Homo sapiens: one gene and its partners. Changing the gene in region 1 together with any one later gene gives a genetic interaction. Each region holds a gene or a part of one and is shown in the gene's direction. Other genes may lie near its edges.

Evidence for each region.
Region 2: changes in DCAF7 (region 1) and MRPS5 together harm fitness more than expected from each alone (negative genetic interaction), as found in Homo sapiens cells (one large-scale study listed by BioGRID).
Region 3: changes in DCAF7 (region 1) and VPS51 together harm fitness more than expected from each alone (negative genetic interaction), as found in Homo sapiens cells (one large-scale study listed by BioGRID).
Region 4: changes in DCAF7 (region 1) and EIF3D together harm fitness less than expected from each alone (positive genetic interaction), as found in Homo sapiens cells (one large-scale study listed by BioGRID).
Region 5: changes in DCAF7 (region 1) and SLC39A9 together harm fitness more than expected from each alone (negative genetic interaction), as found in Homo sapiens cells (one large-scale study listed by BioGRID).
Region 6: changes in DCAF7 (region 1) and SEC31A together harm fitness less than expected from each alone (positive genetic interaction), as found in Homo sapiens cells (one large-scale study listed by BioGRID).
Region 7: changes in DCAF7 (region 1) and DMAC1 together harm fitness more than expected from each alone (negative genetic interaction), as found in Homo sapiens cells (one large-scale study listed by BioGRID).

The regions. Positions count from the first base shown.
Region 1 is NC_000017.11:63,553,135-63,556,995, forward strand, and holds part of DCAF7 (DDB1- and CUL4-associated factor 7), read left to right. Parts: intron 1-3,861. UniProt on the Homo sapiens protein: Involved in craniofacial development. Acts upstream of the EDN1 pathway and is required for formation of the upper jaw equivalent, the palatoquadrate. The activity required for EDN1 pathway function differs between the first and second arches.
Region 2 is NC_000002.12:95,108,095-95,111,955, reverse strand, and holds part of MRPS5 (small ribosomal subunit protein uS5m), read left to right. Parts: intron 1-1,914; coding exon 1,915-2,040; intron 2,041-3,547; coding exon 3,548-3,781; intron 3,782-3,861.
Region 3 is NC_000011.10:65,094,534-65,099,097, forward strand, and holds the start of VPS51 (vacuolar protein sorting-associated protein 51 homolog), read left to right. Parts: upstream 1-1,680; 5' UTR 1,681-1,717; coding exon 1,718-1,945; intron 1,946-2,464; coding exon 2,465-2,594; intron 2,595-4,564. UniProt on the Homo sapiens protein: Acts as a component of the GARP complex that is involved in retrograde transport from early and late endosomes to the trans-Golgi network (TGN).
Region 4 is NC_000022.11:36,512,125-36,515,985, reverse strand, and holds part of EIF3D (eukaryotic translation initiation factor 3 subunit D), read left to right. Parts: intron 1-3,383; coding exon 3,384-3,526; intron 3,527-3,861. UniProt on the Homo sapiens protein: mRNA cap-binding component of the eukaryotic translation initiation factor 3 (eIF-3) complex, a complex required for several steps in the initiation of protein synthesis of a specialized repertoire of mRNAs.
Region 5 is NC_000014.9:69,454,177-69,458,037, forward strand, and holds part of SLC39A9 (zinc transporter ZIP9), read left to right. Parts: intron 1-635; coding exon 636-721; intron 722-1,555; coding exon 1,556-1,690; intron 1,691-3,861. UniProt on the Homo sapiens protein: Transports zinc ions across cell and organelle membranes into the cytoplasm and regulates intracellular zinc homeostasis. Participates in the zinc ions efflux out of the secretory compartments.
Region 6 is NC_000004.12:82,880,956-82,884,816, reverse strand, and holds part of SEC31A (protein transport protein Sec31A), read left to right. Parts: intron 1-2,876; 5' UTR 2,877-2,880; coding exon 2,881-2,959; intron 2,960-3,861. UniProt on the Homo sapiens protein: Component of the coat protein complex II (COPII) which promotes the formation of transport vesicles from the endoplasmic reticulum (ER).
Region 7 is NC_000009.12:7,796,947-7,801,266, reverse strand, and holds the start of DMAC1 (distal membrane-arm assembly complex protein 1), read left to right. Parts: upstream 1-1,488; 5' UTR 1,489-1,532; coding exon 1,533-1,806; coding exon of another isoform or gene 1,807-1,818; intron 1,819-2,629; coding exon 2,630-2,694; coding exon of another isoform or gene 2,695-2,831; 3' UTR 2,832-4,320. UniProt on the Homo sapiens protein: Required for the assembly of the mitochondrial NADH:ubiquinone oxidoreductase complex (complex I). Involved in the assembly of the distal region of complex I.

The DNA.
Region 1 (3,861 bases):
AAAGTGGTGATGTAGTCATATGTACTTTTAATAAATTAACTTATTGATTTACACCATCCACTGTAATTATTAATGTAATTTTGAAATGGTGACAAGGGTAAACAGCATTTCAAGATGCTTAACAACTGTGCTGTGGTGGGAAAAAAAAATTCTCTTGCTGGCAAAGTCACAGACAGTCATACCACTGTGAGCACCTGACCCCATTTGTAATTGAAGGAAACAAAAAAATTTAGCTAGAGGTTAATGGAAATATGGGGATAATTTTCCAATTCAAGTTCACAGACCCCAAGTTAAGAAACCCTGCGAGAGAGAAGTATGTGTAGTGGTTGGTGAGCAGCAAATCCTGCCTTAAAGTGATTCTCAGGCTAAGTTTGTGAGAAACCCTGCCAAAGAGGTGGTCGACTTCATAATTTGGAGGAACTTTAGAATTATTGGTTGGAATTTTTAGACCATTGGTTCCTGCTTGCCATGGATAGTGGTCACCAGCAGAGGATAAAGTAAAATGGACACAGCAAATTAACACTGATGAAAAAGGCTAGAAGTGGTCATCTTTTTAGTGTGGAGACATTCACTAAGAAAACATGGTTGTAATTTTTAAAAATTTGCATTAGCATAATCATGTTTTCCTAACGTAAAATTGTACCTAGTTGATCCATAGAATTAAGTCTATCAACAGTTTAAGAAATTGACTTCCAGGTGTTCCTTCATGTGAATAAATTTGGGAATTGTTGCAGAGTAAAGAAACAGATTCTATCAACTACACTTGGAATAAAAAGCCCCATTATAGGGCTGGGCGTGGTGGCTCACACCTGTAATCTTAGCACTTTGGGAGGCTGAGATGGGAGAATCGCTTGAGCCCGGGAGTTTGATACCAACCTGGGCAACATGGAGAAACCCTGACTCTACAAAAACATTAAAAAATTAGCCAGGTATGGTGGCATCTGCCTGTAGTACCAGCTACTTGGGAAGCTGAGGTAGGAGGATGCTTTAAGCTCAGGAGGCAGAGGTTATAGTGAGCCAAGATCACGCCACTGCACTCCAGCCTGGGCGACAGAGCCAGACCCTGTCTCAAAAAACAGCCTCATTATTGGTTATTATGTTTCTACCTTCTTTTGTTGTGGTCTCTTGAGGGATACAGCAAGATTGGTGTTGGAGCAACAGGTTCTCTAAATTTTAGTGTGTGAGAATCCTGAGGGAGCTGCACATTCCTGGGCTCCACCCCTGAAGTTAACAGACTTGGAGATAGGTGACAGACACACTAGTGGTTGAGTGGTCCAGATGGCACTCTCAGAACATGGCCCTGGAGCTGCCTTGGCATCTGTTGGCCAGAGGCGAGAATGTGATCTTTTTGTGTCTGCATGCTCCTAAACATTGGTTCTGCCCTTCCATCCAAGTTCACCCATGAAAAAAGCTCTGTGATTAGCCTGGGTTATCTAAGTCCTGCCACTTCCCAGTTTTGTATTGCCTTGGGCAAGTTATCCTCTGTGTCTCAGTTTCATCATCTGTAAAATTAGGGCAATAAATAATAACATCTACCTTGTTCAAAGATTAAATGAGTTAATATATGTAATGGACTTAGGAACGCCACCCGGTGTGGAATAAGCCATATAGAGATGTTAGCTGTTATTTAATTATTATCATTACTGTACCTGTAATTGAAATATAACCAAAGAGAATTATATGGCTGTTTAGTAAATTTACTTTTGTATTTTCCAGAAAGGATTCAGGAATAAGAGGTCAGAAAGGTAGCTGAAAAGGTCATTATTTCATTCTCTGCCTTTTAAAGACTCTGGGGGGAAAATTCCCTTATCTCTTTCAACCCAACTCATTTTGTAGTCTAGCAGATTCTTATAGTCAGACTCCAAGTAGTGTAATTTTCTAGTTTAAATCCATTTTCTCTTGTTCTACCTGGCTTACCTACGTAAGTCAGATATAAGAATTTGGCATTTCTCCTGTGTTTTGACAATATGTTTGGTCTTTAGGCCCAGGTGTTATTTCCCCTCTTTTATTGGGAAAAGCTGGGTAGCAGTTCCTGGGCTTCTGTTCCACTTAAGTGCATGTTTCAGGGTTGGTTTTGATAAAGATGGCAGTGTGATTGGGATTTAGTTTGCCCCAGTATTTAACTGACTACTTGTGCTCTAAGATTTGGCATCCAGAGAGTATTTTTGAGGTTCTGAGGAGAGACTGTAGGTATATCTGATGCTTTTTGGAGAATCCTAGTAGTGAGTCTGGGTGGCATGACCACCTTGTACTTGAAACACTGGGATGGGTACTCACCTCACCAGCCTGTGTTGATTCCTCTGAGGTTTTTAATACAATTACTTTATATGTTTGATGCATAATTATTTCGACTCCGGTATTTAATTTTTCATCTTGGTATTTGCGGTAGCCCTTCAGGATTATCATTCATTTGCTCATTAATTTAGCCGGTCTGTATTGAACACATACTCATGTGTTTTAGGCACAATGTGTTTTGGTACACATCAGTACTTTTGATAGATATTTAGAATGTCGCAGTGTTCCACGAGTCCCTGTCAAGACTGTCAGCAGGGGAATTTAAGACATAAAACTCTTCTGGTTTTAACTTCCTCCTTTTTCTAGACAGTGAGAGGACTCATTCCCTGTTGTGACCACTGGATAAAAGTGATAATGCTTTAAAAAAAAATGCTACTTTATTGCTTTTTGTCCTAATCTTGTTCACATAGACTTATTGGAGATGCTGTCACTTGAACAAGGAGTGAATCTATGCTCTGTAGGTAGCCTGGCTTGCCTAAGGACTTGCTGCCAAAGCTCTCGCTGCCAGAGCTCTCTGGTCAGCCTCTGAGCCACGAGCCAAAGGTGTGCTGTGCCAGAATTCATCTTAAAGTTTAATAGGGCAGGACCTTGGGTACCTGCAGACACTGGTCCTTGGTAATCAGTCAGGAAGAGGCTTGAAGAGAAAGCAAATAGAAAAGACCAGGAAAAGCTAGTGTATATTCTCAGAATATTGTGTTAGCCGATTTTTGTTTTATTAACAATTGTGGGAAAATGTTCCAGTGACTGGAGTGTTATGTTGATTTGGATAACTTGGGAGCTTATTTTAAAAATTACATATACATACACACATTCACCTTCTTCTTCTGCACTAGGACTGTGTGTGTTAAAGTGGAATATGGCCAGGCGCAGTGGCTCATGCCTGTAATCCCTGCACTTTGGGAGGTGGATGCAGGCAGATCACCTGAGGTCGGGAGTTCAAGACCAGCCTGACCAACATGGAGAAACCCTGTCTCTACTAAAAATACAAAATTAGCCAGACATGGTGGCACATGCCTGTAATCCTAGCTACTTGGGAGGCTGAGGCAGGAGAATAGTTTGAACCTGGGAGGCAGAAGTTGCAGTGAACGGAGATTGTGCCACTGCACTCCAGCCTAGGCAACAGAGCAAGACTGTTTCAAAAAGAAAAAATAAATCAGGGCCGGGCGCAGTGGCTCATGCCTGTAATCCCAGCACTTTGGGAGGCTGAGGCTGGCGGATCACGAGGTCAGGAGTTTGAGACCAGCCTGACCAACATGGTGAAACCCCGGCTCTACTAAAAATATAAAAATTAGCCAGATGTGGTGGTGCGTGCCTGTAATCCAAGCTACTTGGGAGGCTGAGGCAGGAGAATCACTTGAACCTGGGAGGCGGAGGTGTGGTGAGCCAAGATTGTGCCACTGCACCAGCCTGGGTGACAGAGTGAAACTCCATCTCAAAAGAAAAAACAAATTAGCTGGGAGTGGTAGCATGCACCTGTAGTCCCAGCTACTCAGGAGGCTGAGATGGAAGGATCACTTGAGCCCAGGAGGTCAAGGCTGCAGTGAGCCAAGATCTTGCCACTGAACT
Region 2 (3,861 bases), on another chromosome or scaffold:
TTAGGTTATTTAGAATCTTAGACCTGAGGTAAAAATAGTAAAATCTCTGTTAAAAGAACTTAATTCACCTTGCAGCCATTACACAATTATGTTGATGAATAATATTTAAGAATATGGGAAAAGACTCACAATGTAATATTAAATTTAAAAAAAACAGGATACAAATGTGCATATGGTATAATTCTGCTTAAATATATACTATGTATGCATGCATAAAGAAAAAGGCAGAATATACATTCTTATCTAACAATGGTAATGGGATTATGATTATTTTTGCATTCTGTATTTTCCAGATTTTTAAAAATAGCTATTTTATAATTTGAAAAGTATTAAAAACGTTTTTAATAGCATAATGGCATTCAAAGGTTGACTAATGACTTGCTGTCTTTTTCAAATATAGTTAGATATTTTATTTTCCTCTTACTATATATATATAAAAGAGCTAAACTCTTAATTCAGTCTTTTTACATTTTTGTCTCAATGTCAAGTTCTTTTTAAAATTGAGTCTCTTTTCATCTTAATGAGTGATTTAAGGGTTCTGATTCTAAGTGAAAGAAAACTCTGTGATTGATTGGCCTCTTAGTATGCCTCCATTACAAGTGAACTTTCAAGTTTTCCATGGCATTTATAGGTACCACCATTTTTTAGCACTTAGAGAGAAAAATCAAATCCTTAGTGAGAGTTTGGTTGGAGGTTGGTACTTTTATTTTGAGCCTGTGGTCTTTTAAAGTGAATTAGAGTTGGCTTAAAGTTGAGCCGAATCCTTTGTTCTGGTCAGGGATGTCCAAAACAACATGTGATGTGGAATCTCACTTTCCCTGAGCCTCACTTACGAAGACCAGCTGTGTATATGTGTGTGTTTTTGAAAAATTGGATGCTATACAGATATAAAGCATTTAAAAGTATTATAACCCTAAAACATTTTTCTCTTTTCGTGTTATCTACCTGGAGGATCAGCGTAAGACCTTGCAGGAAGCAAGTAGGTAGAAGTTTTAAACTCTAAGCATTCATAAGAGAATGAAGGTACTCATTTATCTTCTAGAATTTGTTTAGTATTTCAGTTATATAGATATAAATATGTCTTAGATTTTTTACTGTTATAACATTTTGTGGTTCCGATTCTTTATTAAAGAAATTGGTAATGGAACAATTATTTTTTTGAAGGCAGGGTCTCACTCTGTCCCCAAGGCTGGAGTGCAGTGGCATGATTATAGTAATCTCAAACTCCTGGGGTCAAGTGACCCTCCCACCTCAGCCTCCCCAGTAGCTGGGACCATGGGCACATGCCATCACACCTGGCTAATATTTGAAGTTTTAATAGAGATGGGATCTCACTATGTTGTCCAGTCTGGCCTCCAACTCTGGCCTCAAGTGATCCTCCTGCCTCAGTCTCCCACAGTTCTGGGATTACAGGAATGAGCCACTGTACCTGGCCAACAGTTGATTTTATAACCATAGATTGTGTTCCAGATTTGTGGGTTCAGATTGAAATGTTGATTCTTGTTTGGACTAGAAAACTTATACTTAGGAAGGATAGTTATTAGTTATCTTAGTGGTTATAATGGAGGCAAGAGGACAGGGAAGACGCCTATATCATGGTTGATAAAATGTCAGGGAAACGAACCTATTGGTAAGTAACTGAGATTTGAATGCTGGCTTTTAAGCAGTTAGAGGGAAAAATAAAATATTTAGTGAGAGTTTTGTGGAGGAAAGTAATAGAATTGTCTCTTCTTGGGCTTTCCAAGTGTAACCGTCTGATGTGTGCAAAGGATGATTTAATTTTGCTTTCATTACCTCAGTGATGCATGGGTAAAGCTGTAAGCTGACCTCCACTTCTCTTATTATTCAATAGGAGATCATAGACCATTGCTTGAAAACTACAGAATTAAGAAAAGAAACCCTGTTTCGTTACAGTGACTGCAGATGAGCTGTGGAAAGGCGCTTTAGCAGAGACTGGTGCTGGAGCAAAAAAAGGAAGAGGCAAAAGAACTAAAAAGAAGAAAAGAAAGGATCTGAACAGGGGTCAGATCATTGGTGAAGGTAAACTTATTTATAAAAATAGCTAAAGTGCTTTGTAAGTTTCTTACCCCAGATTTTATAGATATTTTACAAACTAGAAGCATCAAAACATTTCTTATGAAGGGCACTACGATCTATGGTTTTAGAATTCAACCAGTTGACTTACTCATTGCCCCAGGATTCTGGGGGAGGAAAATCCCATAGAAATGGATTTATTCATTCAGCAAGCATTAAATGTCCCTAGGTGTCATCTCCTATAATAGTGCCTGCCCTCAAATAGGTTATAATTAGTGATAAAATAGAGACTAAATGGAGAGTTGGCGAATATTCCCTGCAAAGGGAAGATAGTAAATGTTTCTGGCATTGTGAGTTACATAGTCTGTTTTGCAACTGCTCAACTCTACTGTTGTAGCACAGAAACAGCCACAGATAACACACAGTCGAATAGGCATCGTTATGTTCCAGTACAATTTCATTTACAAAAACAAGTCACGAACTGAGTTGGCCTGTGGGCCTTAGTTTGTTGACACCCAGAACACGTGATTGTTTATACTCATGCTTTTGGAAGAGTAAAAATAGTGTAGTGTACTTCAATCAGCCCGTCTTGTACTGTGCTTGCTGACAAACCATCTTTGATAGTAATGGCCTTCAGGGATAAAGAAAACACCTGGCACCACACTTCCAGCATCGCATGTCTACTTGGATATTTTTCTTTATTACTTATATCTTATTTTTTTAACACTTTTTTTTTAAATTATAAGAATCATGTATTTATACTTTCTCAGTAAAAAATGTAGATTATAGAGAAACTTGAAGTCCCCCTGGATGCTTCTTCTACCTTCTTCAATCCTATTGTCTCCCTCAAGGAAACCACTGGCCTCATATTGGTGTGTTTCCTTCAGTTTTTTAATACATAAATGCCTAAAAAGGTATTTATGTATTAAATTTTAGGTATTTATACATAAATACCTAAAAAGATGAATACAAAAGGTATTATGTATTAAATTGTTATTAATTTATATATAAATAGCTAAAAAGAAATAGATATCTTCTTTTTTAAAAAAAATTTAGATTATATCACATGGTACATGCTGTCTTACAGTTTACTTTTTTCACTCAATAATAGGTCTTGGAAATCATTCCACATCAGAACCTAGAGAGTTACCTTGTTCTTTTGATTTAGTGCAGAGTGTTTCCTATGCTGGAGACGCTGTGGTTCATTTAACCAGTCCATAATTGCTGGACATTTGTATTAGTTGCATTTCTTGCCTTTGCAAATAATGTTTCAGTGGACGTCCTTGTCCAAGCATCCATATGCCTTGTACCTGTATGTGAGTGTTTCTCTAGGTAATACCATGAAGTATATTTAAAATTTTGATTGTGCCAAGTGACCTACCAAGTTAATAATGTTAGCTTAAGCTCCAGTGAACAGTGTGTCATCATTATCTGTACATGCATTGCCTGACATTTTAACACTTGAAAAATGAGTACTTTAACAAAATTATTATTTATATTTTTAAACCTTCAGGGCGTTATGGTTTTCTATGGCCCGGACTGAATGTCCCTCTTATGAAAAATGGAGCAGTGCAGACCATTGCCCAAAGAAGCAAGGAAGAGCAGGAGAAGGTGGAGGCAGACATGATCCAGCAGAGAGAAGAGTGGGACCGAAAGAAGAAGATGAAGGTTAAACGGGAGCGAGGATGGAGTGGAAACTCATGGGGAGGCATCAGTCTTGGCCCCCCTGACCCTGGTCCCTGTGGAGGTAGCAAACTCCTGGTTTTGTTTGCCTTTGTGACAGAGAGTACTTGTAGTTTAGAATTTCCTTGAAATGGTGTTATTACT
Region 3 (4,564 bases), on another chromosome or scaffold:
ATAAGTAATGTTTCAAGGGCCACTTTGATGAAGAAAGTCTTTTTCTCTTTTTCCTCCATTCCAACTCTGTGTCCTAATCTGAACTCCAGATCGTTCCCTGTCTTCATGAGCTCTTCACCTTTGTGCACAGCTGCACTTTTGTCCAAGTCAGAACCCTGGGAGAGCAGCTCAGGAGGCTGAGGTGGGAGGGGAGGTCAAGGTTGGAGTGAGCCAAAGATAGCACCACTGCACTCCAGCCTGGATGAAGAGCAAAACCCAGTCTCAAAAAAAAAGGAAAAGAGAACCCTGAGAGTTATCCTCCACATTTCCACCTAACCCTTCACTCAGCACATTCCATCAGTCACTTAAGCTCTGCTGAGTCTGTCCTTTTTTTTTCAATAATAGGGGGCGGGTCTCACTACGTTGTCCAGGCCAGTATTGACCTCCTGGGCTCAATCAATTCTCCCACCTCTGCCTTCCAAAGTGCTGGGATTACAGGCGTGAGCCACTGTGCCCGGCCTTAGGGGTTCTTAAATGTGAGTGTGTATCAGAACTACTTGGGAACTTTCTAAAAAGAAGCTAGATCTGAGAGAATCCCAGAGTCTTTTTTTTTTTTTCTTGCTTTGTTGCCCAGGCTGGAGTGCAGTGGCACCATCGCAGCTCAAGCAGTTCCCCCACCTCAGCCTCCCGAGTAGCTGGGACCACAGGCGTGCGCCATCATCCTGGCTAATTTTTGTTTTGTTTTTTTTGAGACAGAGTCTCGCTCTGTCATCCAGGCTGGAGTGCAGTGGCGAGATCTAGGCTCACTGCAACCTCTGCCTACCGGGTTCAAGCGATTCTTCTGCCTCAGTCTCCGAGTAGCTGGGACTACAGGCGCGCGCTACCACACCCGGCTAATTTTTGTATTTTTAGTAGAGACGGGTGTTTCACCATATTGGCCAGGCTGGTCTCCAACTCCTGACCTTGTGATCCGCGCCCCCACCCCCCCGGCCTCCCTAAGTGCTGGGATTACAGGCGTGTGCCACCGCGCCTGGCCTGTATTTTTTTTTTATAGAGACGGAGTTTCGCCATTTTGCCCAGGCTGGTCTCGAACTCCTGGGCTCAAGCGATCCACCCGCCTCGACCTCCCCAGTGCTGGGATTACGGGAGTGCCCGGCGCAGCTCAGCGCAGAGACTTACAATGCGCCACAGATAGTCCTGAAGGCAATTCTGATGCACGTCAGAGGACCAGGCCCTAAGAAGAACTGCGCTAGAGGCGTGGTACAGAATAGTGTACATGCATTTAATCCTCGTAGCCCCCCTGTGAAGTATGTACCCCAATTTTAGGAATGGGATAAACTGAGCCACTGCCAGTGGCAGGATCCCAGGAACACTCTACTCTGGCCTCACGTCCCGCATCCGTCCATTGCATCTGGGCACATATTCCGTGGGCCCCTTGCCTGCGAGAGTGCAGGTTGGGGAGCCACTACCCGTCCCCCTTCTGGGACAGCAGCAACCCCAGGCAGTTCCACAAAATGCTTCCACCCAGGAAACTGGGGGAATTCAGGGCTCTCCCGGAACCTTTGCACCCGGGGAAGACAGGTGCGGGGGAACTCTAGTCTCGAAGGACCTAGGGCTGCAGGGGGACGTTTCACCTGAAGGACTGCCTCGTTTCAACAACAACTTTATGGCTCCCGGAAGTGCCTCCTCCCCGTCCCCTTCCTTTCCAGCCTCACGCCCGTGGGCTGCAGTTGGAACGATGGCGGCGGCAGCTGCCGCCGGGCCTAGCCCGGGGTCTGGACCTGGGGACTCCCCAGAAGGGCCCGAGGGGGAGGCTCCGGAGCGTCGGCGGAAGGCGCACGGGATGCTGAAGCTTTACTACGGCCTCTCGGAAGGGGAGGCGGCGGGACGCCCCGCGGGGCCCGACCCCCTGGACCCGACTGATCTGAACGGGGCGCACTTCGACCCGGAAGTTTACCTAGACAAGGTGTGTGCGCACGGGGAGTGGGGGGGTGCGGGGAGGGGGGAAGGGAACCAGGCCCCTGCTATATTGCTCCCCCAGATCATGCCTCCGACTTTTTGTGAGGTTCAGGAGAGCAGGTGTTCATAAGAGGACGAACCTCGGCCAGGGAGTACGAGCAGCTGAGGCGTCTGAGGGGATGTGAGTAGGACTGGACTGGCCTGAGGTGATGCGGCATCTGAGGTCTTCTGGGCTGATGTGATAGGCCCGGAATTGGGGGCGTGGCCCAAGCGTTGACAGGCGCGGGGCTGGGCTTAGGCCGAGCCCCAGGATTTCAAATGCTGACAAACACCAAACACGGTTGAACCTAGTAACCCCTGAGCTAGGCCACTTAGGGCCCCCTGCCTGGGATTCCTGACAGCCGGCGGGGGTTTGCGGGGTGGGTGGGGATCAGAGATTTCTTGCCCTGAAAGCCTATCAGCTGCAGGCAAGGCTGGGGGACATGAATGCCTCCTGACCCGAACACTAACCACCCAACTTCTTCAGCTGCGTAGAGAGTGCCCTCTGGCCCAGTTGATGGACAGTGAGACGGACATGGTGCGGCAGATCCGGGCTCTAGACAGCGACATGCAGACCCTGGTCTATGAGAACTACAACAAGTTCATCTCAGCCACAGGTGATCCCCACGGGGACACACCCTCCAAAGTCTCACAGCCCCCATTCTCCCACCTGTGTTGGGAAAACCAGCAAGGGATTTAGAGGGGGGAGACTCAGATTCCAGTCTTGTCCTGACATTATTCCATTCTCACCTCCTTTCCTTTGAGCCTTCGTTGTCAGACTACTATAGAGATAATAGCTACTCTCAGAGGGTTGTCTTAAGTACCAAAGGAGAGAAAAGACAAAAGGAGATTAGTTGTTTATTTTTTAGAGACAATGTCTTGTTCTGTCTCCCAGGCTGGAGGGCAGTAGCATGATCATGGCTCACTGCAGCCTCGACATCCCAGGCTCATGTGATCCTTCTGGATCCTACCAAAGCACTGGGATTACGGGTGTGAGTCCCTGGCCCAGCCCAAAATGAAATTTTAAAATGAAATGTATTTATCTGAAGCACTTAAAAGGCCAGGCATGGTGGCTCATGCCTGTAATCCCAGCACTTTGGGAGGCTGAAGTGGGAGGATCACTTGAGCCTAAGAGTTTAAGATTGACCTGGGAAATATAGTGGGACTCCATCTCTACAAAAAAATAAAAAATAAAAATTAGCTGGACAAGATGGCGTATGCCTGTAGTCCCAGCTACTCAGGAGACTGAGGAGGGAGGATCACATGAGCCTGGGAGGTCGAGGCTGCAGTGAGCTGTGCTTGTACCACTTCACTTCAACTTGGGCAACAGAGCAAGACCCTGTCTCAAAAAAAAGAAAGTATCTATCTGAAGAAGCATCCCAGACACTAGGCTGGGCACAGTGGCTCATGCCTGTAATCCCAGCACTTTGGGAGGCCGAGGCAGGTGGATCACCTGAGGTCAGGAGTTCGAGACCAGCCTGGCCAATATGGTGAAACCCCATCTCTACTAAAAATAAAAAAATTAGCTGGGTGTGGTGGCAGGCACCTGTAATCCCAGCTACTCAGGAGGCTGAGTGGGAGAATCACTTGAACCTGGGAGGTGGAGGCTGCGGTGAGCCAAGATCACGTCACTGCACTCCAGCCTAGGCAGCAGAGCAAGACTCTGTCTGAAAAAAAAAATAATAAGAAGAAGAATCCCTGACATCAAGGAAACCTCAGTAAGGTGTAGTTTCTCTTATTATTGATAGCTTTCTTTTCTGCTCCAGGGAAGAATAGGTGGTCTTGTCCCTCCCTTTCTTTCTCCCTTCCTTCCCTCCTTAACTAAGCAAAGAGAGAAGATGTATGATATTAGGGGACACAAAGATCATGTCGAGGCTTTTTTTTTCTTCTGTCCTCTTTATTCTCTAGTGCCAGACAGTGTTCCACTGTTTTCCACACTAGCTTCTGTGCTGTTTTGAGGAGATGTACTACTCAGACTTTTGTAGTAATTGTACACCCACGTGTAGTAAGTCCAGGAGCCAGATCCAAAGGGTTTACCTGCAGCCTGTGGAATGTTCTGGGAGCATCTGTGGGGTTGCATTCTGATGTCTTACTCTCGTGTCACAGTGGTGGGTGTGGTAACCTATACACATTGTTCTTTTATCTGATTTGAAGCAGATTCCATGAGTAGGCACCTTTCTGTTAGCTAATACCAGCATCAAAATGGCAAGAAATCATAGTTTCTGTGCTGGGATATTTCTCACAGGAATTTAATAAGATTACATTTTCCATTTGTTGGAATGTGTATAATAATATTTTGAGACTTAGCTCTTTTTGTACATCCCACAAAAGGAACAAACGTTTGGAAAAGTGTGAGGATAACCAGGAGCATTGATGTCTTAGAAGCTTAAGTGAGGGGCCGGGCATGGGGTTCTCACCCGTGATCCCAGCACTTTGGGAGGCTGAGGTGGGTGGATCACTTGAGGCTAGGAGTTCAAGACCAGCCTGGCCAACATGGTGAAACCCTGTCTCTACTAAAAATACAAAAATTAGCTGGGCAAGGTGGTGCATGCCTGTAGTCCAAGCTACTCATGAGGCTGAGGCAGGA
Region 4 (3,861 bases), on another chromosome or scaffold:
GAATTGACTCTTCAGAGGCACCTTGAAAGAAACATGCTTCCTTCACTTTTCCTCCTCTATTTCCACCCCACCCCTCCCAATCCGCCCCCCCGCCCACATCACCTGTTGAAAGAGCACACTGGAAGGTTTGCCGCTCTGGGGCCAGCGGCCTTTTCTTGGATTTTTCCTGGTGAGCTCCCCAAAGCATTCAGGGCCGTCGTGCCTGTGTCGTTTTGCCGTCTGTGTTACCGCGTTACTCTGGTCTCACCCGTTTCCCTGTTCCGTTTGCATGTCGTCTTTGCTGGCTCCCCTCCTTTTTGATCCCAGTGGAGTCACCTGGACAGCTCTCTTCGCCATACATACTTCTGTATTATATAACTTTGTATTAGTTTTCTTTCGCACCATAACAAATTAACAGAAACTTAATGACTTAATACCGATTTATGTATTTTACTTTTATTTTTTATTTTATTTTTCTGAAACGGAGTTTCGCTCTTGTTGCCCAGGCTGGAGTGCAACGGTGCGATCTCGGCTCACTGCAACCTCTACCTCCCGGGCTCAAGCGATTCTCCTGCCTCAGCCTCCCGAGTAGCTAGGATTATAGGCATGCACCACCACACCCAGCTAATTTTGTATTTTTAGTAGAGATGGGGTTTCTCCATGTTGGTCAGACTGGTCTTGAAGTCCCGGCCTCAGGTGATCTGCCTGCCTCGGCCTCCCAAAGTGCTGGGATTACAGGCGTGAGCCACAGCACCCGGCCTAACAATACCAATTTATTAGCTCACGGTTTTGTAGGTTAGAAGTCCAGTGCTGTGTGCTTGGTCCTTGTATTAGTCCATTGTCACACTGCTGTAAAGAAATGCCTGAGAGTGGGTGATTTATAAAGAAAAGAGGTTTAATTGGCTCACAGTTCTGCAGGCTCTAGAGGAAGCGTGGCTGAGGAGACCTCAGGAAACTTGCAATGGTGGCAGAAAGCAAAGGAGAAGCAGGCACATCATGGCCAGAGCAGGAGAAAGAGAGGGGGGAGGTTGGTATACACTTTTAAACAACCAGATCTCTTGAATACTCTTACCACAAGAATAGTGCCAAAGGGGGAAGTCTGCCCCCATGATCCAGTCACCTCCCACCATGCTCCTCCTCCAACATTGGAGTTTACAATTTGACATGCAGTTTGGGTGGGGCCACAAATCCAAACAAGGCAGAAATCATGGTGTCAATAGAAATAGAACTGAGTTCTCATCTGGAGGTTCTGAAAGAAAAGCCACTTCCAAGCCCATTCTTATTGTGGGTAAAGTTCATTTCCCTGCAGTTAGATGACTGAGGCCCCCATCCCCCTGCCAGTTGTCAGCTGGGAGCCTCTCTTGGCTCCTAGAGGCCACCTGCATTCCTTGTCACATGGCCCCCTCCATCTCCAAGATAGCAACAGCACATCAGATCCTTCTTGTGCTTCAGATCTCTGACTTCCTCCGTCTCCGACCTCTACACCTAGATTTAAGAGACTCATACGGTTGGGTGAGCCCAGCCAGGTAGTGTATATTAAGGTAAACTGATTTGCGGCCTTACATCTGCAAAATCCCTTTTGACATACAAGGTAGGATGATCATGGGGGTGATACTTGATCCTAGCCATAGGTTCTGCCCGTAGTCAAGGGGAGGAGACTCTGCAAGGGCAAGGGTCACTGGGGGTCATCTTAGAATTCTGCCCATCCCAGGCCTCAACCATGAACTCTTTGAAAATGATTTCTCAAATCTACTCTGATTTATTATACTTCCCATTGTTTTTCTGCTAAAACACCTTCCCCTTCCATGTGTCCCCAGTCCCGTCATTGCCTCTGGGCCAGCTGTCCATCAGCATTGTCTTTCTTCCACCTAAGCTCTGAGCCTCCAACATCTCCAACTTCTTTTTTACATTATTCTGTTTTGCTGTTAGCAAAATAGAAGGCTTTGCTGTCTTCTGAATCTGTCCTGGATTTCACTGATAATTGCCCTAGTTCAGGGCCCCATTTCATCATGCCTGTTTGACATTTGTCTCCTAACTGATTTCTCTACCTCCACCCAACTTCTATATTTGATTTATCTCCGCCAGTCAATTGTCCAATACACGCTTCATCAGCAGTGCAGATTGGGAGAAGAATTCTAACATGCCCCAGCAAGCTGTATGCAGTAGTATGCACCTATAGTCCTAGCTACTCAGGAGCCTGAGGTGGGAGAATCGCTTGGGTTCATGAGTTCAAATCCTGAACTCACCAGCTTGGGCAACATAGTGAGACCCCATCTCCAAAAAATGTGCCACAGCAAACTCACAGGAGTGCTGCAGGATATTTTAAATTTTTTAGGGAAACACAGAGACATCTTGTCAGAATACTAATACATGGTTTGACCCTAACTAAATAAAAGGAATTCTTGGCCGGGCACGGTGGCTCACGCCTGTAATCCCAGCACTTTGGGAGGCCGGGGCGAGTGGATCACCTGAGGTCAGGAGTTCGAGACCAGCCTGGCCAACATGATGAAACCCCGTATCTACCAAAAATACAAAAATTGGCTGGACATGGTGGCGGGCACCTGTAATCCCAACTACTAGGGAGGCTGAGGTAGGAGAATCACTTGAACCCGGGAGGCGGAGGTTGCAGTGAGCCAAGATCGTGCCACTGCACTCCACCCTGGGCAACAAGAGCAAAACTCCGTCTCAAAAAAAAAAAGAAAAAAAATTTAAAAGAAATTCTTGAGTATTTCTTTTGCCCTGTGTTTGCCATGAACCAAGAAAGTTTGGGAACCTCTGTCATGTGACCTTTGACCAGTCATTTCACTCTGGGTCCAACTTCCCACGTCTACAAATGATATGGGTAGAAAAGAGGATCTCTCTGGGGTCCTTTTCTACTGTGTGTGCATTTATGTAAAATGTCAGACTCAGCTTTGCACCCACTGCAGGCTTCCACCCCCATCTAAGGCCAACTCTGCCTGTCTTTCCTATCCCACCATGCCTCTCAGATCAAGACCTCCTGGCTACACCTGCACTTGAGCCAATATTCTCCACTTGGCTCACTGTTACACGTCCTCTGTGAAGCCCTTCCTTACCACGCAACACATAGTAAACACTTGGCTCTGCTGTTTATATGACACTTCTAAAGTGTGTGTGTGTGTGTGTGTGTCCGTGTGTGTCCATCCATCATTCCCTGTCTAGGCGAGCTTTTAGAAGAGAGGAATTGTAAGTCGTTGAGTGACTGCTGTGCGGCAGGCTGTGCAAGGGAAGGGACTATGTCTTTGTCTCTTAAATGGTAAGATTTAGTGCGTACCTACCCACTTTCTAAGCAAGCAGACTAGGGAGTTCCTTCTCTGCCAGAGGAGGTCCCAGCACCTTGGGCATTTGGAGCTTGCTTCTGTTTCTCTAACGGGGCTCTCCTGCAGCACTGTAATGGCGTTGACTGGCGTCAGAAGCTGGACTCTCAGCGAGGGGCTGTCATTGCCACGGAGCTGAAGAACAACAGCTACAAGTTGGCCCGGTGGACCTGCTGTGCTTTGCTGGCTGGATCTGAGTACCTCAAGCTTGGGTGAGATTCCTGTGCAGGAGCTGGCAGCTGATCTTGTGAAAGGAAGGGTCTGGGTAGGGAGGTTGACCCTCCCCTCCCCGTGTACTGGACAATTGACTGGCAGAGATAAATCCAGGGGTGGGGTAGAGATGGAGGGGTCAGTTAGGAGACAAATGCCAAACAGCAGGCATGCTGAATGGAGTCCTGAACTAGGGCAATGGTGTCAATGAAATCCAGAACTGAGAACTCAGAAGACGATGTTTTCCCTTTCCCTTGAAAATAGCAGTGGACTGCCGGGCGCGGTGGCTCATGCCTGTAATCCTAGCACTTTGGGAGGCCCAGGCTGGCAGATCACG
Region 5 (3,861 bases), on another chromosome or scaffold:
AAGTATAATATGCTTTTCTAACAAATTTCATTCATTCAACCAGTGTTTACTTATTAAGTAGTAATCATCTATATAGAGTTCTAGTATCTTTATTTTATTTATTTCTTTTTTTGAGACGGAGTCTCACTCTGTTGCCGAGGCTGGAGTGCACTGGCACGATTCGGCTCATTGCAAGCTCCACCTCCCGGGTTTAAGCAATCCTCCTGCCTCAGCCTCCCAAGTAGCTGGGACTATTTTGTTTCTTAACCTATAAGATTAAGAGATGCTTCCTTTGAAATTCTTCTTTGGTATTTCCCTTGTTAGAATTTGATTAACTAATCAATGGATTTTTGATTAGTTGGAAAATTGAATGTTAGTTTTCCAATAACAACAACAGCAACCAAAATAACTAACATTGAATACTCTGGGCCAGATGCTATGCTCTTTACATAAGTTATCTCATTTAATCCTCATGAAAACCCTAAGAAATACATACTTCATTGAACACATTTTAAAGATAAGGCTGGCATGTAGAAAGGTTAAGTAACATTACTAGATCCAGCTGGACCTGACTGTAAAGCTCATACACTCAACCACTACACTGTTATTGTTGTTGTTGTTTATAGTATTTTATGTTTCCTTGTTTCCAAATATAGCTGATGGTGTTGCTTTGGGAGCAGCAGCATCTACTTCACAGACCAGTGTCCAGTTAATTGTGTTTGTGGCAATCATGCTACATAAGGTAAGCAACATTTTGGTGTAAGGTTTGGTATTGAGTGTATTCATAATTAAAATTTCTCATGGTCCTTAATGTTTTTCCTGGAATGGGAACATTTTCTTCATTTCATAATTGCTATTCATTTTGGAAAATTGAATAAATCTGTTCATAGCTTCTTGTTCCCATTTTCTTAAGCTTTTCCTTGAGGGGTTTCAATTTTTTTGTGTAGACATATACACAAATTGTCAAATTCTCCTCAGATTTTTATATTTCATAGTAATAATTTCTGTTCAAAAGTATTTTTCTTTTCTTGACTGTTTCTCTTTTTTACTATCCAAGAAACACACAAATAGGATCTTTTCTTGGCTTAGAACATTAATTCCTAAGAGGCATAGCTCAGCGTTTGTACTCTGCCTGGTTTTGTTTTTTGGTTTTTTTTGTGTGTGTGTGGGTTTTTTGTTTTTTGTTTTTGAGATGGAGTTTGCTCTTGTCACCCAGGCTGGAGTGCAATGGTGTGATCTCGGCTCACTGCAACCTCCGCCTCCTGGGTTCAAGCGATTCTCCTGTCTCAGCCTCCCAAGTAGCTGGGATTACAGGTGCCCACCACCACACATTTTTGTATTTTTAGTAGAGACGGGGTTTCACCATGTTGGCCAGGCTGGTCTCGAACTCCTGACCTTAGGTGATCCACCCACCTCGACCTCCCAAAGTGCTAGGATTACAGGCATTAGCCACTGTGCCTGGCCTTTTGTGAGTTTTTCTTTGTATGAGAAATCATAGTCAAATGGCATATACTTCTTGATGTAGAAGCAACCCATACTTCTAGAATGATAATAAGAGATGATTTTTTATTTCCAGGCACCAGCTGCTTTTGGACTGGTTTCCTTCTTGATGCATGCTGGCTTAGAGCGGAATCGAATCAGAAAGCACTTGCTGGTCTTTGCATTGGCAGCACCAGTTATGTCCATGGTGACATACTTAGGACTGAGTAAGGTAAGCTAATCTATTCCCAGCTATCTAAACCAGTGTCTTGTGATCTCTTAGAATTTATGATCTCTTAGATTGAATTTTTCCAATACATTACTCTCTCAAACTAAAGATAAAATTAGGAGTAAAAACTATACAGGGTAAATATCTTAATTCCAATGCGTCCTCTTCATATTAGCATTTTCTTATTCATTTAATTTGAAAACTTCTTCCCTATCAATCAGTTCCAAGAATATTTGCATAAATATGATAGCGCTTCAATATTTAAAATAGTATAACGTAACCAGCCATGCTAGCTTCATTTGACAGATATCTAATAAGTCAAATCTGTCCATATTTAATGTGAGGTAGACACCTGAAGCGTGAGTAACAAGCCACATAGCCGCTTTGAGAAGAGCAGCAGCTGGGCAGAGATTGCTGTCAAGAGTTTAAAAAACTGACATTGATTACTGAAGTGATAGAGTAATCTTTTAAAGGGAACAACATACTGCTCACTGAAAGAAGAGAAGGCTTTTCAGGTAAATGGAAAGGGTTTTTATAACACACTGTTAGCAACTAAGATCAACAAACCCTTCCTTAACGGGAACTTAGCCATTCTTGGTCTCATTTTTCACGTTCCTCCTCTTCTCCCAGCTCTCACGTCCCCAGATAGTAACTGTACAGTTCTTTCTATTGAATACTTTGTACTGAACATAGCTTCAGACCTGAGGTAACATGTGCTCTTCTGACTCCAAGCTGGACCTTCCCATGCCTTATAATCCTGTCTGTAGCTCTGAGCAACAACCCTCCGCATTTTACCCAGATGTCAACTGGCAGGCAACTGGAGGAAAATCTTAGAAGCAAACTGACTCAGGGCTAGTTGATGGGAACTGCTTTCCCCAACACCCTCTCTAAAGGTCATTGATTCTTCTGAGCATCAGTCAATTCAGTATTTGGCAGTAAAACCCATATTAATAGGAACATGTGAAAAATGAGATAAAGAATGGCTAAGTTCCTGTTAAGCAAGGGTTTGTTGATCTTAGATGCTAAGAGTGTGTTATAAAAACCCTTTCCATTTACCTGAAGAGCCTTCTCTTCTTTCAGTGAGCAGTATGTTGTTCCCTTTAACAGATTACTCTATCACTTCAGTAATCAGTGTCAGTTTTTTAACCTTTTGACAGGAAGGTGCTGATAATTCTGGAGACATGGAGTTACTTGCTGCATCTATGGGATGTCCTTTTCTTAAAATTTTAATTAGTTGTCTTAGTCCATAGGTCTACTTTTTTAACAGAAAAGGTTGAAATTAGTTTTATAAAGATTAGCTTATGAGATATACATATATATACACACACACACACACACACACATTTTTTTTTTCCTTTGAGATGGAATCTTGCCTGTCACCCAGGCTGGAGTACAATGGCGCAATCTTGGCTCACTGCAACCTCTGCCTCCCAGGTTCAGACGATTCTCCTGCCCCAGCTTCCGGAGTAGCTGGGATTACAGGCGCCCGCCACCATGCCCGGCTAATTTTTGTATTTTTAGTAGAGACAGGGTTTCACCATGTTGGCCAGGCTGGTCTCGAACTCCTGACCTCGTGATCCGCCCACCTTGGCCTCCCAAAGTGCTGGGATTACAGGCATGAGCCACCACGCCCGGCTGCTTAAGAGATATTTCTAGGCTCTATGAGGTCAACTACTGCATCTTGATTACCACTGTATCTCAAGCACCTGGCCCAGAGCCTGGTGCATAGATGATGCTTGTTAAATATTAGTAGAATAAATAAATTTATGTCTGAAATTTAATATCTGCAATAATATATTGTTGATTCTATCTCAAGAATAATACAAGCCAAACCTGTTGAACCAGCACTTAAAGTTCGTTTTAAAAAGCAATTGTGAACCAGGAGCAGTGGCGCATACCTGTAGTCCCAGCTACTTGGGAAGCTGAGACAGGAGGATTGCTTGAGCCCAGGAGTTCCAGGCTGTAGTGTGTTATGATTGTGCCTGTGAATAGCCACTCAACTCCAGCCTGGGCAACATAGCGAGACCTCATCTCTAAAGACAGATACAGTCAATGAATGGATGGACAGAATGATGGAACTGTGGTGAATATAGTTTAATAATAGTGTGTGGTACATATCAAAATTGCTAAGAGTAAATTTCAGATGTTCTCACCACAAAATATGATAAATATTT
Region 6 (3,861 bases), on another chromosome or scaffold:
ATATATTGAGCTCTAGGCCCTGAAAACAGAGAGCACCCCTTCTTTCTAGGTCCCAAGAACAATTCACAAAAATTCACTATATAGGCTCTATTGAAAGGAAAGGAGGAATTATAGGCATAGGGGATTTTAGGACAAGGGAACTACTCTGTGTGATACTATAATGACAGATACATGTTGTTATACATTTGTCAAAACCCATAGAATATACAACACCTAGAGTGAGCCCTCATATAAATTGTGGAGTTTCAGTGATAATGATGTGTTCATGTTAGTTTATGGATCGAAACAAATAGACCTTTATGATGTGCGATGTTGGTGGTGAGAAAGGTTATGTGGTTGGGAAATGTGTAGCAATTTTTTGTACTTTGTGGCTCAACTTTTCTAGGAACGTAAAACTCTAAAAGATAAAGCATATAGCTTTTTTTATTTTTAATCAAAATCCTATGAAAGGTGAAAAGAAATTTTTTTTTTGAAAAAAGCAAAGTCAAAAGATAGTCTATCAACTTAATAGAAAAATTGTCGAATGATGGCCGGGCGCAGTGGCTCACCCCTGTAATCCCAGCACTTTGGGAGGCTGAGGAAGGTGGATCACCTGAGGTCAGGAGTTCGAGGCCAGCCTGGCCAACATGGTGAAACCCCGTCTCTACTAAAAATACAAAAAAATTAGCCTGATGTGGTGGTGTGTGCCTGTAATCCCAGTTACTTGGGAGGCTGAGACACCAGAATCGCTTGAACCCGGAGGCAGACGTTGCAGTGAGCCGAGATCGCCCCACTGTGCTCCAGCCTGGGTGACAGAACGAAACTCCATCTCCAAAAAAAAAAAAAAAAGAATAGAAAAGAAAAATGGTCAAATAATACATGACTAGACAGAAGAGATGACAGAAAAGGAAATATGTTTACCCATAGTCATACAAAAAAAAGATGTTATACATCATTTATAGTATTACTATACAGAGCTAACATTTTTATTTTTCTCTTTTTTTTTTTTGAGTCATGGTCTCACTCTGTCGCCCAGGCTGGATTGCAGTGGCGCAATCACGGCTCACTGCAGCCTCAACTTCCCGGGCTCAAACAATCCTTCCTCCTCAACCTCCCGAGTAGCTGGGACTACAGGCGTGCACCACCATGCCCAGCTAATTTTTGTATTTTTTCTAGAGATGGGATTTCACCATGTTGTCCAAGCTGATCTTGAACTCCTGGGCTCAAGCAATCCACTTGCTTCGGCTCCTAAAGTGCTGGGCTTACAGGCCTGAGCCACTGCACCTGGCCTTTCATTTTTTAGTGTTGGTATGATCTAAAAGTGTGACAGTATGCTCTGATAAGGCTGTAGGGCAATAAGTAATCGTATATTACTGTTGGTGGTATGAAAAGGCACAATTGCCATAGAGGACAACTTGGTAATATTCATCAAAATTAAAATTGCATTAACCTTTTAACTTAGCAATTTTACTTCTGGAAATTTATAGCTGTCCCTTTTTAATGAAATAACGTGCAGATGACCATTTATTTCAGCACTTTTTTGTAAAAATAGCTAAAAACAGCTTAGGTGTTTGTTGGTATTAGACTAGGTAATTATGGTACATCTTATAGTGCAGTACTATGCCATTTCAATATATTTATGTAAAAATAACAAAGATCTTTAAAAAGTACATAATACTATACCGTTGTAATTTTTCCATCAAAGTAACTTTTTTTTTGAGACCGAGTCTCGCTCTGTTGCCCAGGCTGGAGTGCAGTGGCATGATCTCGGCTCAATGTAACCTTCACCACCTGGGTTCAAGTGATTCTTCTGCTTCAGCCTCCCAAATAGCTGGGATTACAGGCATGCACCACCACACCTGGCTAATTTTCTTGTATTTTTAATAGAGACGGGGTTTTGCCATGTTGGCGAGGCTGGTCTCGAACTCCTGGCCTCAAGTGATCCAACTGCCTCGTCCTCCCAAAGTGCTGCGATTGCAAGCATGAGCCACCATGCCTGACTCCATCAAAGTAACTTTAATGACAGAAAATACGTAAACAAGTGGTATATGGGATTATACCTTGAAGTGACCAGTTTTCTAATAATTTCTACTTTATCTTTAAAATCTGTGGGCTTACTATATTCTCTCTAATATGTTGTAACTTTGAATTAATTTTTTAAACTGCTCTTATCATTGAGTAATCCTACTCCAGGAAGTTGCACCTTATTTATTTTTTGGCTGCTCTTACCCGTAATGTTTTGTCATCCATCCTAGTTGGATAAACACATGTGTAGCAAAGTTAATTCTTCAGGTACTACCTTATTATTTTTGTGGGCTATTTTTCTAGACTGATTCAACTGAAGAACTATAATCTGTAAACAGAATAGCCCAGTATTTGTCTCAAAATGGTTTATCAAGTTTGTCTTTTTTTTTTTTTTTTTTTTTTTTTTTTTTTGAGATAGAGTCTTGCTCTCTCGCCCAGGTTGGCATGCAGTGGTGCAATCTCAACTCACTGCAAGCTCTGTCTTCCGGGTCATGCCATTCTCCTGCCTCAGCCTCCTGAGTAGCTGGGACTACAGGTGCCCGCCACCACGCCCGGCTAATTTTTTGTATTTTTAGTAGAGATGGGGTCTCACCATGTTAGCCAGGATGGTCTCAATCTCCTGACCTCGTGATCCGCCCGCCTTGGCCTCCCAAAGTGCTGGGATTACAGGCATGAGCCACCCGGCCTCAAGTTTGTCTTCTTTCTAATGAATATATCCAACAAATGACACCTAAACCGATTTGATTTATTTGCAGTTGGGCATTACTAATGTTGTAGTGGTTTGTTCAGTATGTTTCTATTTAAAATATCTGTGTTCTGTGTTAGACATTCAAGTCATTCAAGGCTGTTTCTGTATAAAATATTCCCTTTAGCAGGATGAAGTTAAAGGAAGTAGATCGTACAGCCATGCAGGCATGGAGCCCTGCCCAGAATCACCCCATTTACCTAGCAACAGGTAAGTTCAAAGGAGAGAAGATAGTATGAGTTACCTAATTTCTTCTCTTCTGCACCTAGCTTATTCAGTTTAAGCTTTATCTTCTCTAGAAAGCCTCTCTCTCCCTGGCAAGTTACTGACATTCTATCAGCCAAGTTTAGTGTTCTTCCTCTGTGTTCCCATAGCATTTTGATCATGATGTGTTACATCTAAAATATTTTCCTTCACAGGAATTGTATTTTATCTTTATTCCTCCAGTATTAAGCACAATAGATGGCATGTAAAAAAAACAGTTAATATCAGTTTGAATGAATGAAGAGCAATTTTGATGTTAGCATTTTTATATAAAAAGAAATAGTTATATCATATATGTCTATAAGCAGATATAGTAAATCACGGGACTTTTTTTTTTTTGAGATGGAGTCTTGCTCTTTCGCCCAGCCTGGAATGCAGTGGCGTGATCTCTGCTCACTGCAAGCTCCACCTCCCTGGTTCCTTCCATTCTCCTGCCTCAGCCTCCCAAGTAGCTGGGACTACAGGCGTCCACCACCATGCCTGGCTAATTTTTTGTATTTTTAGTAGAGATGGGATTTCACCATGTTAGCCAGGATGGTCTTGATCTCCTGACCTCATGATCCACCCATCTCGGCCTCCCAAAGTGCTGGGATTACAGGCATGAGCCACCGTGCCCAGCCCCCATCACGGGACCATTTTTACAGAGATTTTTAAATATATACAGGCTTAAAAAATTATTTACACTACCCACTCTTATAAACATCCTCTCCTAGCCCTGTGCCAGAATCTCATTGCTATAGTAATTTAAGCATCTGCTCAATGGCATATGTGCAGCATTCATGAGCAAGAGAATGGAAAACATGCTTTTAACTTCTGTTTTGTATGGTTTCTCTGATCTTTTATTTTTG
Region 7 (4,320 bases), on another chromosome or scaffold:
AGGAGATCAAAATATCCCTAACTGGATATTGGAAGAAATTGATTCCAATCTTTATGAACAACTAAGAAGGGTTCAAGATTTCAGATGAGGGAAGTAACAGCAGATGTGGTGGAAATAGCAAGAGAACTAGAATTAGAAGTGGAGCCTGATGATGTGACTGAATTGCCACAATCTCATGATAAAACTTGAACAGATGAGGGGTTACTTCCTATGGATGAAGAAAGTGGTTTTTTGAGACGGAATCTACTCCTGGTGAAGATGCTATGAACATTGTCAAAATGTTGGATAAAGGGCTCCAATTTTGAAAGACGTTATATAGTGGTTATTAAAATGCTATAAAACGGCATTGCATGTTGCAAAAAAATCTTTCGTAAAAGGAAGAGTCAATTCTTGCAGAAAATTTCATTATTGTCTTATTTTAAGAAATTGGCACAGTTACCCCAACCTTCAGCAACCACTACCTTGATCAGTCAGCAGCCATCACCATCAAGGCCAGACCCTCCACCAGCAAAAAGATTAGAAGTGGCCAGGTGCGGTGGCTCATGCCTGTAATCCCAGCACTTTGAGAGGCCAAGGCAGGTGGATTACCTGAGGTCAGGAGTTTGAGAATAGCCTAGCCAACATGGTGAAACCCCGTCTCTACTAAAAATACAAAAAAATTAGCCAGGCGTGGTGGCAGGCATCTGTAATCCAAGCTACTCGAGAGGCTGAGGCAGGAGAATCACTTGAACCCGGGAGGCGGAAGTTGCAGTGAGCCGAGATTGTGCCATTGCACTGGGCAGTCTGGGCAACAAGAGCAAAACTCCACCTCAAAAAAAAAAAAAAAAAAAAGATTAGGATTTACTGAAGGCTAAGGTAATCGTTACCATTTTTTGGGCAAGATGTTTTTTAAATTAAGATATATATACTGTTTTTTAGACACAATGCTACTGCACATTTAATAGACTACAGTATAAACAACTTTTATATGCACGGAGAAACCAAAAAAAAATTGCATGGCTTGCTTTATCGAGATATTTGCTGTATTGTGTTGGTCTAGAACCAAACCTGCAATCGCTATGGTATGTCTGTATCTAGCACATGATTATGCACATATAAAACCCAACTCCTTGATTCACAGGCCTCTGGATAGGAGATATGACATGCCCAAGGTCTCGCAGTTCATGTGAGGCAGGAAACTTAAGAGAGCCAGACTTCTTTAAGGAGACTGAAAGGTGATTCATTTAGTGAGTAGCGATTACAGAATTTCTAAAACAGTGGGGGCGGGGGGGGCGGCGGGGAGGAGGGCTGGAATTGTCCTCCAGCGCATACAAGGTTGTTGCTGCCAGAGAAATCCAGCAGGAAAGAGCAGCATTCTTTCACCTTTTCCGCCTCTGAAGCGGAGGAGAACTTCATTTCCCAGCAGCCCTTAAGATTCCTCCGCGCACTGCGCTAGCGTCCCGGCATTCTGCTTTCCGGCGCTCTGCCTTCCGGTGCGTCGTTTACGCCAGTTTGAACCAAAGACGCCCAAGGTTGAGGCCGAGTTCCAGAGCATGGGGTCTCGGTTGTCCCAGCCTTTTGAGTCCTATATCACTGCGCCTCCCGGTACCGCCGCCGCGCCCGCCAAACCTGCGCCCCCAGCTACACCCGGAGCGCCGACCTCCCCAGCAGAACACCGCCTGTTGAAGACCTGCTGGAGCTGTCGCGTGCTTTCTGGGTTGGGGCTGATGGGGGCGGGCGGGTACGTGTACTGGGTGGCACGGAAGCCCATGAAGATGGGATACCCCCCGAGTCCATGGACCATTACGCAGATGGTCATCGGCCTCAGTGAGAATCAAGGCACAGCACTTGGGCGGGTTGGGTATCTGCGGGGTAGAGGAAGGAAACGGAGCAGCCACGTGGGCGGGGAGGCGGGGAGGCGGGGTGCTGCCGCTGGTCAGGTGGTGGGGGCACCTCAAACAAGGTGGGAGAGGAAGTTGTTGGAACGCCTTTCTTTTTTTTTTTTTAATTTTAAGTTAGTATTTCTTGAGAACCCTTATTAGACTCAGCCCTTTTAATTCTCAGAATAGCTGTTAGAAGTAGGTATGATTATAGTATTTACTGTGGAGCAAACCGAGGCAACGAGGAGTATTGTGTTCATGGTCAGGAAATGACAGTCACTTGATCCCAGGTATATCAGATCTCAAAGCCCATACTTTTTCTCCAGGTCCTGGAGAAAGCCTGAGCGAGGGCCCTTGACCTTAATTTAAGAAATTTGCCTTGAATCCCAGATCTTTAGACGTGGATTCTAAGCTCACCTACTTGGTACACCTGGGTAATGTGGCCCACAGCCCCGTTCTGTGATCGTCAAGATGTCATCCAATCAAACGTCATGATTTTTTTAGCTTTCAAACCGATTGTCAGTGAATAGAATTTTAGGTTTCTAACTGTCTTACCTTCTTGATCCTGTATAGGTAAATTCTCCTACAGGATATTCTTTTTTTTCCTGATTTTTTTTTCTTTTTCTGTGCTTCACTTGCCTTATAAGAAAGATACAATGGTAATATATCCTCCAGAAGTGTTGTGAGGGTTAAATAAGATGGCGTATATGTGAAACACTTGGTAAATTTAAATGCAGCATAAAGGTAAGGTATTGTTGTTTTTTTTCTAGGCATTGCCACCTGGGGTATCGTTGTCATGGCAGACCCCAAAGGGAAGGCCTACCGCGTTGTTTGAAAGTACCACCAGTGAATCTGTCTTCTGTCTCTGTCCCTTTCCCCGTGACACACACAGCAGGCATGGAATTTAATGGGTGTTCTGGACAGACACTTGTACATGGACAGACATCACTACTGTGGATACTACAAGACTGAGAAGAAAATCGTATGTTGTCATTCTCTGGCTATGGAGTGTTTGTGGCCTTCACAGATTTCACAGGAACCAATAAATCCCTCAGAGAAGTAAACAGGTTCTTTGTCTTATCTGGGGAAGGAAAGTATAACTTATATTTAAATATAATTGCTTAATTAAGCATTATATATAAACATAATAGTATGTCTTATATAATTGCATGTCATATTATATATAATAAACATAAATATGTTTAGTTATATAGTTAGTATAATTTTTAAAACTTTTAAATACAGCATATGGTAAACCAACGGGAAAATTAGCTATTTTACTTCATTATTTTAAAGAGTTCTTTTTATTTCTTTCATAATTGGATCAACAACTGTTAACCTAACCCTGGGTGGGCATCATGCAATATATAGAAGTACGTGAAATTTTCTGTGTATGAATTGCTGATACTTTGCAAGGCATTTTCAAATCCATCACCTTATGAGAGCTTCACAGCTAGTCTGAGGTAGTTACTTCATTGGAGGTAAAACTTAAAACACAAGAAAGAGCCCACATGATTTGCCTAGGGTCATTCAGTAAGTCCGTGATGGAGCTAGAACTTGTTCTTGTCAGTTTTTTGTTCTAGTCTTCCCTTTCATGGAGGCAAGAATAACCATTATGAAACAGTTAGATAATCATAAAAATCAGCATACAATAAAAGACTTAAATGTCACAAGAAAAATTCAAAACCTTTAGCTAAAAAAAAAAAAGATCTTTTGATTCTTTTTCCACAAGCACTAGATATGTTTCTGTGATGATTTTGAGATAAGTACTCAAAATTACATAGTTCATTTCTAAGAGAAGGCCATGTTTTCTACCTATTGGGTTTTTCTACCCTGAGATACTATGGCTTCTTTGTAAAGGTATATAAAGTGTTTTTCAAAGCGGAAAGATACTGTTAAATTCAGCTGCTAATCATAGTGTATTTGTTTGGAATGACATGTTGAGCAGGTAGTACCTTTACGGCTGTTGCTTTTTGCAGCATTATGTGGAAGTGCCTAAGTCTATTTAGCCTCACAGATGACTTTAGAATCTTGTATTTTCTACATCAGAGTTCATAGCGGGGATGGTGCTACATATATCTATGCAACTGAAAAAGAAAACATTTCAAACCTAAAGTACGCAACAAGATATTATTTATATGAAATCCATAGCTCAGTTATGCTATGTTCATGAATAGAGAAGTTTTAAGTTGGAAGGGACCATGGATGACCCAAAGCAGATACATATGGTCATTCATATACCTAAAATACCTACAAAGACAAGTTGTTCCCTGGTTTAAAAGGCAGTCTGTTCTATTGATGGACTGCTTTAGTCCCTGAACATTTTCTTTGGTTAAACCAAAAACACATAAACCTAACTTGGTCTTGGCTTGATCTACTGGGTAAATAATAACTCTTAAATATATATACAGTTGACCCTTGGACAACACAGGAGTTAAGAGCGCTGAACATTTGCTCAGTG